Linked DNA regions of Homo sapiens. The protein of the gene in region 1 purifies or fractionates together with the protein of each later gene. This does not show direct contact. Each region holds a gene or a part of one and is shown in the gene's direction. Other genes may lie near its edges. The genes, in order: NEXN, ACTR10, MYO1D, CUEDC1 and PZP.

What was found.
Region 2: the proteins of NEXN (region 1) and ACTR10 purify together in Homo sapiens (affinity purification with mass spectrometry; 2 studies listed by BioGRID and IntAct, with this or other methods). This does not show direct contact.
Region 3: the proteins of NEXN (region 1) and MYO1D purify together in Homo sapiens (affinity purification with mass spectrometry; one large-scale study listed by BioGRID and IntAct). This does not show direct contact.
Region 4: the proteins of NEXN (region 1) and CUEDC1 purify together in Homo sapiens (co-immunoprecipitation; one large-scale study listed by IntAct). This does not show direct contact.
Region 5: the proteins of NEXN (region 1) and PZP fractionate together in Homo sapiens (co-fractionation; one large-scale study listed by BioGRID). This does not show direct contact.

The regions. Positions count from the first base shown.
Region 1 is NC_000001.11:77,894,963-77,898,623, forward strand, and holds part of NEXN (nexilin), read left to right. Parts: intron 1-3,661. UniProt on the Homo sapiens protein: Involved in regulating cell migration through association with the actin cytoskeleton. Has an essential role in the maintenance of Z line and sarcomere integrity.
Region 2 is NC_000014.9:58,206,648-58,210,308, forward strand, and holds part of ACTR10 (actin-related protein 10), read left to right. Parts: intron 1-1,288; coding exon 1,289-1,371; intron 1,372-2,351; coding exon 2,352-2,460; intron 2,461-3,661. UniProt on the Homo sapiens protein: Part of the dynactin complex that activates the molecular motor dynein for ultra-processive transport along microtubules.
Region 3 is NC_000017.11:32,762,084-32,765,744, reverse strand, and holds part of MYO1D (unconventional myosin-Id), read left to right. Parts: intron 1-663; coding exon 664-867; intron 868-3,661. UniProt on the Homo sapiens protein: Unconventional myosin that functions as actin-based motor protein with ATPase activity. Plays a role in endosomal protein trafficking, and especially in the transfer of cargo proteins from early to recycling endosomes.
Region 4 is NC_000017.11:57,885,913-57,889,573, reverse strand, and holds part of CUEDC1 (CUE domain-containing protein 1), read left to right. Parts: intron 1-3,661.
Region 5 is NC_000012.12:9,205,469-9,209,705, reverse strand, and holds the start of PZP (pregnancy zone protein precursor), read left to right. Parts: upstream 1-1,310; 5' UTR 1,311-1,364; coding exon 1,365-1,447; intron 1,448-4,237. UniProt on the Homo sapiens protein: Is able to inhibit all four classes of proteinases by a unique 'trapping' mechanism. This protein has a peptide stretch, called the 'bait region' which contains specific cleavage sites for different proteinases.

The DNA.
Region 1 (3,661 bases):
GCCTCAGCCTCCCAAAGTGCTAGGATTACAGGCGTGAGCCACCATCCATGGCCAGCCTATAGTGTAATTTTTTTTTTTTTTTTTTTTTTTTTTTTTTTTTGAGATGGAGTCTCATTCTGTTGCCTAGGCTGGAGTGCAGTGGCACAATCTCAGCTCACTGCAAACTCCGCCTCCCAGATTCACACCATTCTCCTGCCTCAGCCTCCCGAGTAGCTGGGACTACAGGCACCCGCCACCATGATTGGCTAATTTTTTTGTATTTTTAGTAGAGATGGGGTTTCGCCGTGTTAGCCAGGATGGTCTCGATCTCCTGACCTCTTGATCCGCCCGCCTTGGCCTCTGAAAGTGCTGGGATTACAGGCATGAGCCACCGCGCCCGGTCACCTATAGTGTAATTTTTAAAGTATAAGGTTGCAACCTTCATTAATTAAATGCAATAAAGTTACATTATACCTAAGTTTATGTTTCCTGTACAAGTGAAAAATGATAAAAATTTAGGCTCATATTTTATGAAGCTCAAAACAATTTTGTTGCTTGTTCCAAAGACTGTAAGAATTAGGTTTCAACATTTACTTGTAGCATATAGTTAAGTATTACGTTTAAAATCTTCTTAAAAGTTGGCTGGGCACTGTGGCTCACGCCTGTAATTCCAGCACTTTGGGGGTGCAAGGCAGGCGGATCTCTTGAGGCCAGGAGTTAGAGATCAGTCTGGTCAACATGGTGAAACCCCATCTCTGCTAAAAAATACAAAAATTAGCCGGGTGTGGTAGTGCACACCTGTAATCCCAGCTACTTAGGAGGCTGAGGCATGAGAATCACTTGAACCTGGGAGGTGGAGGTTGCAGTGAGCTGAGATAGTGCCATTGCACTCCAGCCTGGGCGACAGAGCAAGACTCCATCTCAAAAAAGAAATCTTAAAAGTTGACAGCCTGGTTGGGCACAGTGGCTCACATCTGTAATCCCAGCACTTTGGTAGGCTTAGGTGAGCAGATCACTTGAGGTCAGGAGTTGGAGACCAGCTTGGCCAACATGGTGAAACCCTGTCTGTACTAAAAAAAATTAGCCAGGTGTGGTTGCATGTGCCTGTAATCCCAGCTATTCGGGAGGCTGAGGCAGGAGAATTGCTTGAACCCAGGAGGCAAAGGTTGCAGTGAGCAGAAATGACACCACTGCTCTCCAGCTTGGGTGACACAGTGAGACTTTGTCTCAATAAATAAATAAATAAATAAATAAATAAGTTGTCGGCCAAGCACAGTGACTCAGAAACTGAGCTCATTTTCTGACTTAAACATGCCTTTTAATTTAATCTCCAGTTAATGGTAACCCTGTTCACCCATTTGCTCAAACTAGAAACCTTGGGTTCATCCTTTTTTATTTACTTGTTTGTTTGTTTATTTCTCATCCTCTGACTCTTGCTTGGGTTCATTCTTGACAATATTCCTCTCCTCACCTCTACCCCTCCAAATCAAATTGGCCAAACCTCTTGCAATTGTGCCCCACTACAGTGTAAGTTCCATCAAGAAGGCTGGGCATGGTGGCTCACACCTGTAATCCCAGCACTTTGGGAGCCCGAGGCGGGTGGAGCTCAGGAGTTCAAGGCCAGCCTGGCCAATATGGTGAAACCCCATCCCTACTAAAAATACAAAAATTAGCTGAGTGTGGTGGCAGACAGTTGTAATCCCAGCTACTCGGGAGGCTGAGGCACAGAACTGCTTGAACCTGGGAGGCAGAGGTTGCAGTGAGCTGAGATTGCACCACTGCACTCCAGCCTGGGTGACAGAGCAAGACTCTGTCTAATTAAAAAAAAAAAAATTTAGAAAAGAGAGAAGAATCAAATAGATGCAATAAAAAATGATAAAGGGGATATCACCACCGATCCCACAGAAATACAAACTACCATCAGAGAATACTACAAACACCTCTACGCAAATAAACTAGAAAATCTAGAAGAAATGGATAAATTCCTCAACACATACACCCTCCCAAGACTAAACCAGGAAGAAGTTGAATCTCTGAATAGACCAATAACAGGCTCTGAAGTTGTGGCAATAATCAATAGCTTACCAACCAAAAAAAGTCCAGGACCAGATGGATTCACAGCCGAATTCTACCGAGGTACAAAGAAGAGCTGGTACCATTCCTTCTGAAACTATTCCAATCAATAGGAAAAGAGGGACTCCTCTCTAACTCATTTTATGAGGCCAGCATCATCCTGATACCAAAGCCTGGCAGAGACACAACCAAAAAAGAGAATTTTAGACCAATATCCTTGATGAACATTGATGCAAAAATCCTCAATAAAATACTGGCAAACTGAATCCAGCAGCACATCAAAAAGCTTATCCACCATGATCAAGTGGGCTTCATCCCTGGGATGTGAGGCTGGTTCAATATACGCAAATCAATAAATGTAATCCAGCATATAAACAGAACCAAAGACAAAAACCACATGATTATTTCAATAGATGCAGAAAAGGCCTTTGACAAAATTCAACAATGCTTCATGCTAAAAACTCTCAATAAATTAGGTATTGATGGGATGTATCTCAAAATAATAAGAGCTATCTATGACAAACCCACAGCCAATATCATACTGAATGGACAAAAACTGGAAGCATTCCCTTTGAAAACTGGCACAAGACAGGGATGCCCTCTCTCACCACTCCTATTCAACATAGTGTTGGAAGTTCTGGCCAGGGCAATTAGGCAGGAGAAGGAAATAAAGGGTATTCAATTAGGAAAAGAGAAAGTCAAATTGTCCCTGTTTGCAGATGACATGATTGTATATGTAGAAAACCCCACTGTCTCAGCCCAAAATCTCCTTAAGCTGATAAGCAACTTCAGCAAAGTCTCAGGATACAAAATCAATGTGCAAAAATCACAAGCATTCTTATACACCAATAACAGACAAACAGAGAGCCAAATCATGAGTGAACTCCCATTCACAATTGCTTCAAAGAGAATAAAATACCTAGGAATCCAACTTACAAGGGAAGTGAAGGACCTCTTCAAGGAGAACTACAAACCACTGCTCAATGAAATAAAAGAGGATACAAACAAATGGAAGAACATTCCATGCTCATGCATAGGAAGAATCAATATCATGAAAATGGCCATACTGCCCAAGGTAATTTATAGATTCAATGCCATCCCCATCAAGCTACCAATGACTTTCTTCACGGAATTGGAAAAAACTACTTTAAAGTTCATATGGAACCAAAAAAGAACCCGCATCACCAAGCCAATCCTAAGCCAAAAGAACAAAGCTGGAGGCATCACGCTACCTGACTTCAAACTATACTACAAGGCTACAGTAACCAAAACAGCACGGTACTGGTACCAAAACAGAGATATAGATCAATGGAACAGGACAGAGCCCTCAGAAATAATGCCACATATCTACAACTATCTGATCTTTGACAAACCTGAGAAAAACAAGCAATGGGGAAAGGATTCCCTATTTAATAAATGGTGCTGGGAAAACTGGCTAGCCATATGTAGAAAGCTGAAACTGGATCCCTTCCTTATACCTTGTAGAAAAATTAATTCAAGATGGATTAAATACTTAAATGTTAGACCTAAAAGCATAAAAACCCTAGAAGAAAACCTAGGCAATACCATTCAGGACACAGGCATGGGCAAGGACTTCATGTCTAAAACA
Region 2 (3,661 bases), on another chromosome or scaffold:
ACTGAGAGCTTTCTGAGGATCATAAGTGAAGCCATTGTTATATATTAGCATTGACTTAGCACTCATGGCTTGGTAATATGTGTGTAGGCTGCTTTTGTGCTAATGGTGTTTGTTGTCATTTTTATCACACATATTTATGAACAACCACAACTATGTACCTGGAACTGTATTATTTGAAGAAAGATATATCATAAGCAAGCCAGAAATAGTTCTTGTGCATAGAGCTTATAATCTAGCAGAAAGGGGGACATTTTACAAGTAATTCAGTGTGGCGATGTTGCAAAAGAGAAGATATCAGTGTTTTTGGACTAACAGGGACTGAACCAAGTTGAGTATTTGAGGAAGCCTTTGATGCTTTTTATTCAATGCTGAATTTTTTTTTTTTTTTTTTTTTGAGACAGGTTCTCACTCTGTCACCCAGGCTGGAGTGCAGTGGCACGATCTTGGCTCACTGCAACCTCTGCCTCCCTGCAACCTCCACCTCCTGGGTTCAAGCAGTTCTCCCACTTCAGCCTCCTGAGTAGCTGGGACTACAGGTGCACGCCACCACGCCTAGCTAATTTTTGTATTTTTAGTAGAGATAGGGTTTCACCATGTTGGCCAGGCTGGTCTTGAACTCCTAGCTTCAGGTGATCCACCTGCCTCGGCCTCCCAAAGTGCTGGAAATTTGTTTGTTTGTTTGTTTGTTTGTTTTTTGAGACGGAATCTGGTTCTGTTGCCCAGGCTAGAGAGCAGTGGAGCCATCTCAGCTCACTGCAGCCTCCTCCAGGGTTTTCAAGTGATTCTCCTGCCTCAGTCTCCAGAGTAGCTGGGACTATAGGCACACACCACCACGCCTGGCTAATTTTTGTATTTTAAGTAGAGACAGCGTTTCACCATGTTGGCCAGCCTGGTCTCGAACTCCTGACCTCAAGTGATCCATCCACCTCGGCCTCCCAAAGTGCTGGGATTACAGGCATGAGCCACCACACCTGGCCTCAAAGCTGATTTTTATCATTCAAGCCAAAATGATAAGTCAGATGGAGGAAAAATGCATGTGAGCCATGCTCTTTACTTCCTATGAACACACACTTCCATTACCACAGACTAAAACATTCTGCCATCTTAGACATTCCGATTCTTAAGGATTCCTAATTTAAGAGATTACTCTGTATTTAATTTTTATATTCTCAATACAGATTGCTTTTAATTTATTCCCAGAAAATGTATTAGTAAATAATTACATTTTAATCTTAATTTGAGGTTATTTTATTAATATAAATTAATAAATCATTTTAATTTTTTACAGCCTGTCAGAGTTGTTCAGTATAATATCAATACAGAAGAATTATATTCCTACCTAAAGGAATTCATCCACATACTATATTTCAGGTAAGATACATTTTGTTTTCTAGCTTTTATGATTAGATAGATTTTCCTAATGCCATAGTGATAATTGGTTGTGTTACAGCTGAGGCCAAAAAAAAAAAAAATGGACTTCTATTGCCATTTTTACATGCTTATTTTCAACCTTTTCAAAAATATATTTGAAGACTAGAAAACTGGCAGACATAAAGAGATACTGAAAATGAAATATTCATTAATGAAGTGAACTGATAATTAAATTATTCTACATTCATACAGTGAAATACCATGCAGCTCTTTAAAAAGAGTTCTGCATCTGTATGTAGTAGTACAGGAAGGTGTGTGGGATATATTGATAAGTGAAATAAGCAAGTTAAAGAACCACATCTATGGAATGAGTATTTCTGTTAAAACATACCCCCATACATCCATAAGAATGAAAAAAAATACAAACTTCTATCAGTGATAGTTCTGAGTAGTAGAGATATAAGGTTCTTGTACTTTGCAAGTTTTACGTGTCATAATATTTGGAGCTTTGTGAGCATATATTACTATTGTAACCTAAAAAAAAAGAAAATATCGCCAGGTGCTGTGGCTCACATCTGTAGTACCAGCTACTCAGGAGGTTGAGATCAGGGGATGGCTTGAACCCAGGAGGCTGAGGTTGCAGTGAGGTGAGATTGCCCCTCTGCACTCCAACTTGGGCAACAGAGCCAGATCCTGTCTCAAAAAAAAAAAAAAAATCTATATAATGGCTCAAGTTGGTAATCATAGTAGGCTATAATTTTAGGTTTCTGAGATAAGTAAGTTAATGAATTTCCTAGCACACTGCACGGTACATAGTAAGAGGTCAGAAATGTTATCTTTCTGGGGTAATAAAATGAAGATGTCTTTTTGTGATAAAATATCTTAAGCTAAGGTAGTACAGTTTCACTGTTCTTAAATTGTATGACTTAACAAAATGAATAAAAACTTTTACTTTTAAAACCAAAACTTTCACTTTTCAGGCATCTATTGGTGAATCCCAGAGACCGCCGAGTTGTGATTATCGAATCGGTATTATGTCCTTCTCACTTCAGAGAGACACTCACTCGTGTTCTTTTCAAATATTTTGAGGTACCTGTCTTTATATCAAATAAGTAAATTGCTTTTGAAATAAAAAGAGAAGCAATAAAATTCTTACCAATTTTTAGGGAATCTTTCTTCTCTTTTTTTTTGTTGGTAGGTACTCAAAACTTAAACTAATAAAAGCCCTTATTTTGTCTCATATTGTGTATGGCACACAGTGTAGTTGGGGAACCAGATGACAGAAGATTCTTCAAACTGGCCATTTATTTTCTTCCTTTGTGTGGTTATTTCATGCTTTAGCATTTCATCCAACACTTACATAATTGGATATTTCTTTTTATTACTGTTTATTTATTTTAATATAGGTTTTTCTATTTGGGGACTTTTTTTTATTCAGAATTAAAAGGTATATTCTGTGCTGTGGACTTTGCAATGTATTTCTTCCAGATCTTTCTAGCTTCCATTGTTTAGTTGTACTGTTCTGAATTTTGTCATTTTAGGCTTCAAATTCCTTTAAAATGGAATATTCAGTGCCTCCCTTAGAGTAAGTTGGTAATGCCAGGAATGAGACTTACCTCATAATATAAGTAATATTACCTGTAGCTTTGATTTTATAGGAATCAGGATTATTTTATCACCAAGAATATGTTTTAAGATTAGTATATTTCATAGTAGACCAGAATCTTAATTATTCAAATTTTTAAAAATCTTTGCCTTAAAATTTAGGTTTTATCAGCAAGGGAAAATGTAAGATTATATGTATTAAGTGAATAAGAAATTAAGCACATATAAATGTATTTTCATACATTTACTGAATTCAAAACATACCTAATACCAAAAATCACAATGTCTTTATGAGGTAAAGGCACTTAATATTTCTAAGTTATATTTTTGTAAAGCAGGTACAGGGAATCAGGTTGCATAGCCTCCAGTACCTACTGATGTCATGAGTCCAGGAATTTCATTTGTAGTAAGGAGAACATAAAGCAAAACAAGAAGTCGTGTCAGCTGTTATCTGAATAAAGTAGAATATTCTCTGTATTTATAATTAGAGTTTGTGTTAATATCTTCTATATGACTAGAATACCTACTTTATTTAGATAAGGGGAATACAGCCATTATTTTGTCTGCCATTCGATTATGATGGACTGTCATATTTTGATTGAATATCTAGTATTTGAGATGGCACCAGGTTTGGCAAATTCTTACTGAAAAAAATGTTGCACAGAGCCAACTATTTGTATATTTT
Region 3 (3,661 bases), on another chromosome or scaffold:
GGCTCACGCCTGTAATCCCAGCACTTTGGGAGGCCGAGGTGGGTGGATCATGAGGTCAGGAGGTCGAGACCATCCTAGCTAACATGGTGAAACCCTGTCTCTACTAAAAATACAAAAAATTAGCTGGGCGTGGTGTCAGGCACCTGTAGTCCCAGCTCTTCAGGAGGCTGAGGCAGGAGAATGGCGTGAACCCAGGAGGCAGAGCTTGCAGTGAGCCAAGATCGCACCACTTGCACTCCAGCCTGGGCGACAGAGCGAGACTCTGTCTCAAAAATAAATAAATAAATAAAATAAAAAGTTTAAGGAAAACAAAAACTATAAAAGCATTAGAGGAAAGCATCAAATGCTCATAAACCCTTTGGAGTAGGAATGGTCTAAGTATGACACCAAAGAAAGAGAGACCCTAAGGCAAAAGATTCATAGATTCGATTACATAAAAATGTAAAACTTTTATCTATCAAAAACATACACTGAAAGCAAAAAGATAGATGAGTGTCCGGAGAAAGGGAAAAAGTAGATGAAACACTGTTTTTATATGTTGAGATGTATAATGTATTTAGGAAAATAGGTACAAACAAGGTCACCTGAATTGTATTTTATATTGGCAAATATATCCTTGACATAATGTTTCATAATGTGTTATTTTTTTCACTTTTGATACAGGGAAATTTAAAATTTGTAGTAGATGGTGACACGCCTCTTATTGAGAATGGCAAAGTAGTATCTATCATAGCAGAATTGCTCTCTACTAAGACAGATATGGTTGAGAAAGCCCTTCTTTACCGGACTGTGGCCACAGGCCGTGACATCATTGACAAGCAGCACACAGAACAAGAGGCCAGCTACGGCAGAGACGCCTTTGCCAAGGTGAGAGTGTAACTGACCCTATGTCACCTGGTGTTGATCGCAGTTGCAAATTGAGTGAAATCCTGTGAGCATGTATTCAGACATTCTTGAAAGAGGGTTAAGGCTTTTAGAAACCATAATGATACTTTCTGGCCATACAAGCCTCGGTAAAACTCCCAGATGTAAGTAAGCATCACTGCCAAAAAAGGTTCTGAGAAGAGTGGAAGCTGACTGGGGGTGGCGCTCATGAGGGCTTCACGTGCTGCTTCTCTCACTCAATAATGCTTCGCCAGAGTCAACTGACTGAGCTCTGATCCATTTTTTTTAAGTTTTATTTATTTTTAATTGACAATAATTGTATATGTTTATGGGTACAGTGGGATATTTCAGGACATGTACACATTATGGAATGATCAGATCAGACTAATTAGCATACCTCTTACCTCACCTACTTACCATTTATTTGTGGTGAGAACATTTAAAATCCACTCTTAGCAATTTGAAACAATATTATTAGTATTATTATTAACAGTCACCACGCTTTGCAGTGGATCACCACAAATTATTCTTCCTGTCTAACTGAAACTTTACCCTTTGACTAACGTCTCACACTTTCTCCATCCACCCCGCTCCTCTAGCCTCTGGTAATCACCATTCTATTCTCTGCTTCTATGAGTTTGACTTTTTCAGATTGCATATAGGTGAGATCACACAATATTTGTCTTTTTGTGCCTGGCTTATTTCACTTAGCATAATGTCCTCCAGGGCTGTGTACTAAGCCTGCAGTGATAGTACCACAATTTATTTAACCACCTTACTCTTAAGTCACCCACTTTACTTCCCTTTTTTGCAACTGCAAACAATGCTGCACGTCTTTATACATCTATGCTTATATACTAGTGCTTTTGTTTCAGCTGGATGGATTCCCAGGAGTGAGCTTGCCAGGTCAAAGGGTATACTTATTTTATTTTTATTTTTTGAGACGGAGTCTTGCTCTGCCATCCAGGCTGGAGTGCAGTGGCACAATCTTGGCTCACTGCAACCTCCACCTCCCGGGTTCAAGTGATTCTCCTGTCTCAGCCTCCCAAGTAGCTGGGATTACAGGAGTGTGCCACCACGCCCAGCTAATTTTTGTATTTTTAGTAGAGACAAGGTTTCACCATGTTGACCAGGCTGGTCTCGGACTCCTGACCTCAAGCGATCTACCTGCCTTGGCCTCCCAAAGTGCTGGGATTACAGGCGTGAGCCACCGCACCTGCCATATATTTATTTTAAACTTTAAATTTACTGATTTTATGGCTGCATGGTAATATTTTATTGTTACTTTTATTTCATTACTAGTATATTTGAGCATCTTATCATATTTTTGTAGAGTATTTTAACATATTCTAAGAATTGCCTGGGTATATCTTTTGTGCATTTTTCTTTGGAGCTGTTATCTTTTTATTGTCAATTTCTAAGTGTTCTTAGCATATCATAAACTTTAACCCTTTGTTATCTGTGTGGCAAGCGTTGTATTTTCTCACGTCTAACTTTCGTTGTTGTTGTTTTGCTGGTTGATTAGTTTACTGTCTATTTCATTTTTTACTCTTGTAAGTCTTAGGCTTGGTTTTTAGTTTTGGGGGAATTTGAATTTTTCCTAAGTGCAATGGAGAGCAATAGGGAGGACTTTAAGGAGGGGCAATGACATCAAGTTTGCCTTTTTTTTTTTTTGAGATGGAGTCTCGCTTTGTTGCCCAAGCTGGAGTGCAGTGGCACAATCTCAGCTCACTGCAAGCTCTGCCTTCCGGGTTCATGCCATTCTCCTGCCTCAGCCTCCCAAGTAGCTGGAACTACAGGCGACCGCCACCACGCCCAGCTAATTTTTTATATTTTTAGTAGAGACAGGGTTTCACCATGTTAGCCAGGATGGTCTCCATCTCCTGACCTTGTGATCCACCCTCCTCGGCCTCCCAAAGTGCTGGGATTAGGTGTGAGCCACCGCACCCGGCCGTTTTTTTGTCTTTTTTTTTTTTTCTTTTTTTTTTGAGACGGTGTCTCTCTGTCACCCAGGCTGGAGTGCAATGGTATGATCTCAGCTCACTGCAACCTCCACCTCCCGGGTTCAAGCAATTCTCCTGCCTCAGCCTCCTGAGTAGCTAGGATTACAGGCACCCGCCACCATGCCTGGCTAATTTTTGTATTTTTAGTAGAGATGGGGTCTCATCATGTTGGCCAGGCTGGTCTCAAACTCCTGACCTCAGGTGATCTGCCCACCTCAGCTTCCCAGAGTGTTGGGATTACAGGCATGAGCCACTGCACCTGGCAAGTTTGCATTTTTAAAATGATCACTCTGGCCTTAGTATGGAGAATGTTATGGGGGCTAGAGTAAGAATGGAAGCAAAGAGGTCAATTAAGGGGATATTTTGTTAATCCAGGAAAGAGATGAGGGCAGCTTGAATCAGAAAAGTGAAAGTACAAATGGGGAGAGGAGGATGATTTGAAATGGACTGTGTTGAGAAAATAAAATCCATAGGACCTATTATGTGGAGAATGAGAGAAGCAAGAATAATACTTTAACATGGTCTGGCTCCAGCCCACCTCTCCCACCTCATTTTATACTATACCCAGCCCCCCTTTCTTCAGCCCAGCACATTAGTCTTCTCTCAGTCCTCACAGATTATCCTGATCCCTTTCTCCTTCCAGTCACAGGGCCTGTGCACATCTGTTCCCTCTGCTTGGACTGCTCTTCTCTCCTCTCTTGCTTGGCTACCTCTTACTCATCCTTCTGGTCTCAAGTATCACTTTCCCAGAGAGGCCTTCCCTAACCTTCCTG
Region 4 (3,661 bases), on another chromosome or scaffold:
TGTAATGTGAGGCAGGGTGTGGGGCTGGGCTGGAGTTGTCAGTCCTTTACATTTTGTGGTCCCCACAAGGATGCTTTCAAAGCTTTGCACTTGGGCCAAATGGAAGCGGCTGCTTGAGCTGCTGTGTCTCCAGTTGCCCAGGCCAGCCCAGCCTCCCCTGGGGCCATGAGGATCAATATTTCCTTACAGAGGGCTGAAAGAATTCCAGGGATTGACATCCAGGTGCTGGGGAAGACCCCCCTAGAATCTCCCTACCCCATCCCCCCTGTGAGGGCAGCTTGGCCAATTTACCCACTGCTCCTGGCTCTTTACCAGCCTCCTGGGGCAATGATAACTCAAATGCAGCATAGCCACGTTCTAGGCAGTGTGCTGAGGATTATCTTATTTCATTCCCATTGAAACCCCCTAAGGGATACATCCAGATGAGGGCTTAGGGCCACGGAGAGGATGGGAGACTTGTCTGAGGTCCCACAGCTGGGGAGTGCGGAGGCCTTGTCTGAACTGGTGCGTGTTCCCTATAAGTGGCAAGAGTGCAAGGCTTCTGGAGCTTCTCAACACTCAGAGAGGCCCAGAACCCGAGGGAGCTGTCCAGAGGGCTGCTAATGGGGAAAATGTCGGTCTTGCCATCTTCTTTCTTCCTCCCCTGGGGGTGGCCCAGGTCATCTTTCTCCGAGGGATTGCCTTTGGCAGAGTGAGACCTGGGTCCCTCCATCTCTGTTAGTAAATTACTGGAGGGGCAGAGAGATGATGGCTTTACTCCAGAAGGCCTTAACACAAGTCACTGACCCCTGTGTGTGATGACACTAGGACAGCAGACAGTAGCCCAAGGCATCAGCTTCTGGGGCCTCCTGGCCCTGAGGTCTGTGTTAGAGGCTTGAGGGCAGGTCCCCAGAGCCCAGGACAAAGGCAGCTGTCAGGGTGGAGCCCAGGCGAAGCTGCATACTCTTCTGATGTGTGTGGGTTCGTGGAGATGTGGGTGTAGGGGTGTTGGGGTGTCTAAAGCCGGCTATGGGAAGCCATGTCATACTTGGCTACCTTCCTATGTTCCTTCTCACAGCAAAACTCTTGGACTGATCATTTGAAGTCACCCCTCTGTGTCTTCTTGTGAAATGGCTTGGGCGTCTCTGGGCTCTGACTTGCTCATCTGGGAAGAGATGGGGTAGAGGGAGTTGGATTATAAATCATGCTTCACTCAGTCAACAGAATGCTACTCAGGCACTAAAAATGATGGCGTAGCCCTACGTATTCTGACATGGGAAGATGGCCACAATATCTTATTATGTGGAAAAAACTAGTTGCATAGGATTTATGGTTTGATTACATTTTAGTAAAATAAATTCATTTATGGTGGTATATGCAAAGAAAAAATAATGCCGGGCGCAGTGGCTCACGCCTGTAATCCCAGCACTTTGGGAGGCTGAGGCAGGTGGATCACTTGAGGCCAGGAGGTTGAGACCAGCCTGGCCAACATGGTAAAACCCCATTTCCATTAAAAATACAAAAATTAGCACCAAGCGTGGTGGCACGTGCCTGTAGTCCCAGCTACTCAGGAGGCTGAGATGGGAGACTTGCTTGAACCTGGAAGGTGGAGGTTGCGGTGAGCCAAGATCACGCCACTGCACTCCGGCCTGGGCTACAGCCAGACTCTGTCTCAAAAAAAAAAAAAAAAAAAAAAGAGAAAAAGAAAAAGAAAAGAAAAAATCGAGATGTAGACACACTAAAGTGTGAACAGATTTTCTCAGGGGTTGATGTACTCACAAAAACATCTTGGCCAAGCATTGAAGCTCATGCCTGTAATCCCAGCACTTTGGGAGACCAAGGTGGGCAGATCACCTGACGTCAGGAGTTTGAGAACAGCCTGACCAACATGGCAAAACCCCATCTGTATTAAAAATACAAAAAAAAAAAAAAAAAAAAAGCCAGGCGTGGTGGCGTGTACCTGTAGTCCCAGCTACTCGAGAGGCTGAGGCAGGAGAACTGCTTGAACCTGGGAGGCAGAGGTTGCAGTGAACCAAGATCACAGCACTGTACTCCAGCCTGGGCGACAAAGTGAGACCGAAAAAAAAAAAAAAATTTCTGTATCAGCTGTTAAGATTGTGACTCCAAGTCCTAGAAAAGTGAAAACAAGTTTGCACCTGTTTCATCAAACTCAAGGATATTATTTGATGGAATTGTCCCTTAAAATAAAGCTGCCACTGTCAGAAGTTGGTGTTTAGGCGCATTCCATTCCCAGTGGTCTGTGCTAACAGAAATGCAACCTTGGCAGTGATTTACATGCCTGGGTTTGAGTGGGCCGGGTGGTTTTCTGTGGCAGATTAAGGTCCCTCATTGTGCTTGATTTTCAGTTCCACCTATACATGTTGTCAGGACACTGTGCTGACCCTGGGGGCTGAGGGACACACATTGGCTGGGGCAGGAGAACTGGGCTTGGTGGGGATAAGAACAGAATTTATGGCCGGGCACGGTGGCTCACGCCTGTAATCCCAGCACTTTGGGAGGCCGAGGCGGGCAGATCACGAGGTCAGGAGATCGAGACCATCCTGGCTAACATGGTGAAACCCTGTCTCTACTAAAAATACAAAAAAAAATTAGCCGGGTGTGGTGGCGGGCGCCTGTAGTCCCAGCTACTCGGGAGGCTGAGGCAGGAGAATGGTGTGAACCCGGGAAGCGGAGTTTGCAGTGAACCGAGATCGTGCCGCTGCACTCCAGCCTGGGTGACAGAGCGAGACTCCGTCTCAAAAAAAAAAAAAAAAAAACAACCAGAATTTATGATGTATATGGTTTCTCAAGACAACTTTGAGAAAAAACTTCTAGAATTTTTAAAAATATGTAAGGACACTGAGTGTTCCATAAGAACAAACGTGTCTGTGATATAAATAAAACATGTCGGCCTGACATTGGGGTAAGGAAAATGAACTCCAGGGGTTGACAATGGCCTTGCATCTCTCTTTTGGGCTGGTGCTTCTCAGGGGAATGGACTGAGTTTTAGGGCCTGACATGAGTTTTCCAAGAGTGGGAACTGGGCCTCCCCTATTAGCCCGAGGCTCTGCAAGGATGAAACCCTGTTTCCTCTCTCAGGCTGGAAGCTCCCGGTGACACTGGAGGGTCCCGCTTCTCATCACTGCTGTCCCCGGGGTTCGATGGAGCTCTGCACAAGATTCCTGCCCTGGTGGTGGGACCACGATGTTGGGGCAGTGATGTGGGAAGATGAGAACAGGGACTAGAGATCAGAGAGGCAGGACATCTTTAAAGAGCCCCTCCTGCCTCACTCAGGTCTTCAGGGGTCTTTGGCAGTATGTGTAATGGTAGAGACCAGTGACTTGAGGGCCATATGTCCCAGATTCAAATCCTGGCTCCTCCACTAACTCAGCGTCTATACCTCACTTTTCCCATCTGCAACATGGGCATACTAGCACATACCTTACAGTATTGTCATGAGTTGGCCCACATAGAGCACTTAGGATGGCACCTGGGTCGGAGGAATCCCTTGCTAACTGGTGGCTGTCCTGTGCTAGTAAAGAACTGTGGGGATTTCATTACTGAAGCCGGGGAGAAAGCATGAGGAAGAAGCAAGCCTCCCTTGCCCGTGGTAGGGGTCGCGGTTCCCTGCCCTCATTTCTTAGTAGCCCTTGGCCGCCACCCTGAGCTCATGTTTTGTTAG
Region 5 (4,237 bases), on another chromosome or scaffold:
ACATTGGAAGGGAAATGAGATTGGAGAGAATTACAAAGGAAACTCCAACCATATTTGTCTTGATTTATTTCTTTTTTTGGGTTGGTGGATCTGGTAAAAACTGGAAAAGCTTCTAGACAAATTTTAAAAGAGCACTACCATTGCCATCTTTCATTTCTTAAGAAGAAATGACCTTAAACAAACTTGGCAAGTGTTTAATTTTATTAAAGTTGGGTGCATGTAAGGTACGAGTGTCTTTTATCTTGCTCTCTATATTTGTGAGTATATATATATATAACATTTCATAATTTAAAAGAAATTATTTCATTCTATGATAATGTGACAAAAGAAACAAAGATGTGAAATAAAAACTAATAGGAAGGAATCCACTTTCAGCAGTGTGGCCAGGAATTTGCTCTCCAAAGAAGGGATGATTAGGCTGAAATATGGAGAAAGAGAAAGAAAGTTGATTTAAAAAGTTTCAAGCAATACAGTATGTAAACAGACACCAATGTCTGCAGTCTAAGGATGGCATTAAATCTGCTGGTGGTTTATATGTGATCATCATTGTACTACAAGTTCTATGAGAGCATGGATACTGAATATCCTGTTCAATATTGTATTTTCATCACCAGAATAGCACTTAGCACACAGTATGGCTCAAAAAAAAAATCTCAGATAAAGTCAATGACATGGTTTAAGGGACTCAAACGTTAGAGTGCTCAGACAGTAACAAGGACAGATAGGATCAACTAAGAATCTGATCAGGTCAATGCTGTGAAATAGACAAGTGTGATCTTTGATAACTCCTTTCTAAAATCTCTTTGATCTTTTATCTCTTTTATCTTTCATTGATCCTCTACTCTTGAAATCCTTATTTTATATCACTTTCTTCCAGGACCATGTACTCAATCAACTGCTAAAAAAGAAAACCCAAAAACCCTAAAGTCTATAGTTATAACTCACTCAGTCCCAGAAATGAATCTGCAATGCATGAGCTACTATCATGGTAACATGTCCCTGACATTCTTTGTCAGCATCCTTTGTCACCTGCTTGTAAGGATTTTGAAAGAGATGGAGAAAGGTAGGTTGAAGGTTCCTTATCAGGAGGTTTGCTGTCAAAGCTCATTCTAAATGGAATACAAATTTTATCTTCCAGACATGCCTCAGTACCTATCAGAATTTAGCCTTGAGAAAAATGAGGCAACCACTGAGAGTAATGACCCTTTTAGGGAATCTGTGCTCAATTCTGAACTCTATTCAGAGGCCTTGGGGTGGGGCTTGTTTGTACATAGTGGCCACATAAAGCCTGGTAAACTCAGCTGGTCTCCAGGGCGAGGCTGAGGGCAGAGAGTTGGACACAACCCTGAGATTTATCCCTCACAATGCGGAAAGACAGACTTCTTCATTTATGTCTTGTGCTACTTCTTATCCTGCTTTCTGCCAGTGACTCAAACTCTACAGAACCGTAAGTCTCACTCAAGACCCCTTCCTCCAGAGTGCGTTTCAGTCTCTCCCTTGTGTCTTCGCTTTGCCTTCCTTTGTAAATGCCACCTTTCCACTCATTACAATACCTTCCAAATATAAGAAATTATTCCAGTTAATCCCTTGTTTGTCTTTCATTTATCCTCTATTCTTGAAATCATTTTTTCTACACTGGGCCAATCAGAGTCATAAATACGATTAGTCACTAGGAAGCATGATTAAATAAAACACTAGATCCCAACTTCACAGAACAGTTCTTTTGGATGGAAGGCACTGAATATAGAGATATTCGAAATATATAGTGAAGTGCAACTTAACATGTATTGTAGGCCATATATATATATACAGAAAGTATAGCTCCTTTATTTTTCAATCATGTATCAAGTCTTCACCAACAGCCCCCAGTGGGGGACCAAAGCAGGGAAAATAATTTTAACCCTATCCAGTTGTAAGTTGGTACAACTCAATAATTGTAAGACTTCTTTTCCACCTCTCCCCAGTTCCTCTCCTCTATAGTGTCTAGAGAACTGTGGTCTCCATTAACTCCTAATAGAGAAAACTGTCAGAGTCCTTGGTCTCAAAGTTCTCCGTCCTTCTTGGCTACTGTCAGTCTGACTTCTCCTTACTTGCTGGCATGCACTGTTGAAGTTTAGCCATCTGGTTTCTCTTGTGTGTTCAGGACCCAACAGTCCTCTCTAACTGACTGTCTCACTTCAGCTGTTTCATATCCCATAGAACTCCTACCTTTGCATCCTGCCTCAAATACTATGGCTATTGTTTCAACACAGCCTGTGATGCAGGGTCACCTTGCCCCTTTGCAGTCCAGGCCATTTAAGGTCCCTGGCCTTAACCCAGCTGCCTTTACATTTCTTCCAGAGAATGGTGAGAACTCTTGGGTCCAATAATAGCACATAGGCACTGAGGTGTCCTGGAGAGGTTAAACTTCTACCTCTCTCTTGCATACCCACACTGCACTTCTAGATGCCTATCGTGTCTCCTGTATTCCAGACTGATACAGGGAAGTCTTCAGAGTCCCAAATCGGGAAAGGGATAAGGGGTCCCTCTGCTCTGTGTGTTACCCTTATCCATCTAACACAAATAGCCTTCTTCAGGCCAAAGCGCAGAAAGCAGAAATAAGGAGTTCAATCCAGTAAGTCTCCTGCTTTCCTCAGGCTTTTTCCTTGCACAATTTCCTGGCAACCGGTAGGGGTACATTTCTCCCCCACTATCCCTCTACCTCATCTACAGCAGTGGGCTCTACTACTTCCAGCTGCTCTCCATCCAGAAAGCATATGGGAATATGTGGAGGCTATTTTGCTTTCTGAGAGCAGACTGAATGGATAAAGCGAGTAGCGTGTATTGGGTCAGAAACATTAAGCAATTTGTGGTTCTGGATGCATTCCTACACTACATTGGACCATGCTGCCATTGAAACCATCCTTTTACGTTGTGTCTGCCACTGAACAAAGAACAACAAGCCTCATGCCCTAGTTGTCACAAGCAGAAGGGGTGTTTTCTCCCTTTATAAGGAGAAAACTTAACTTCATCCCTCCAGAATTAACCCTTGATGTGATAAATGTGAGAGACTACAAAAGAGAACCAATAGCCATTCTCCCCTGCCTTGGGGCAGTAAGCTTCAGAAAGATGAAGGTTTCAGGGGAATAAAATGAAAAAGAGAAAATTAAAAGTTATCACTTTAATATTTGCTACATTTAGTCCCTGCTAAAGAGGCAAATATTTAAAATGCAAACATTCATGATTGAGTAAACATATATTAAAACATTTTAGCAGCTCACTACCAATGACATCTTGGGCAAGTTTGTCAACCTGGATTTGTTCTGATTTCAATATCTGTTAAAAAAATATTAACTGAACTCATATAAAATAGTTCTTTAGAATATCAAATATATGTGGAATTAATTTTTAATCGTGATATCTTTTAGGCTTATAATTTATAAGAATAAAAATAGTAAATAAATTATAAATATATATATACCTTCTTATTAAGATCAAAGAACTAAAGGAAAAATTTTTTGATGGGGATGTAAAAAATGATACATTTTTATTATTTATTATGCTGTTAAAAGAGCAGTGATCAGGAGATCAGAAGCATCCAGATACCAGAAAAAGATTAAGACATAAGAGACTAGCTGAATGACTATCAGTGAGTTACTGAACTGCCCTCAGCTTCTCTGCTAGAGAACAAAACCTTACTACTCATACAGTAAAATCATCTGAAACTTGGATGATTTCAGAGTGGCCCTGGAGATTCATGGCATATAGTTTTGCCCAGGAACACTTTAAAACACATGTAGCAAGACTGGTGTGCTGGAGCAGACTACATGGAGGATGAGGGGACCAAATTTGAGTTCCACATTCCACAACTCAATTATCCTTGGATTCTCTCCTCCTAGTCTCACACCTATTAATTTTGTAAAGCAACAATATTGGGTTTCTTGTGTCAAATTGCCTGTCCAGAAAACAATTTAAAAAGTAAGAGTTTATGTTGGCAATGGAAAGTAAGGGTAGTAAAATAATATAAGAAAATAATAGTTTTTACTTGCAAATTTACTCTATAAATGGCCTAACCCTGCAGATATTGAATCATGAATCACTGAATCATTAAAGCTTTGAAGAGTTACATTTTAGTCACAATTTACTGATTTTACTGATTTGGCATGGGGGCAGGGATTTTATCTATCTGTTATGGATTCAAGTTTTGGGGACTGATGAGGATCTCATGTTTTAGCTTCCATGAACATGGAGAGTATCA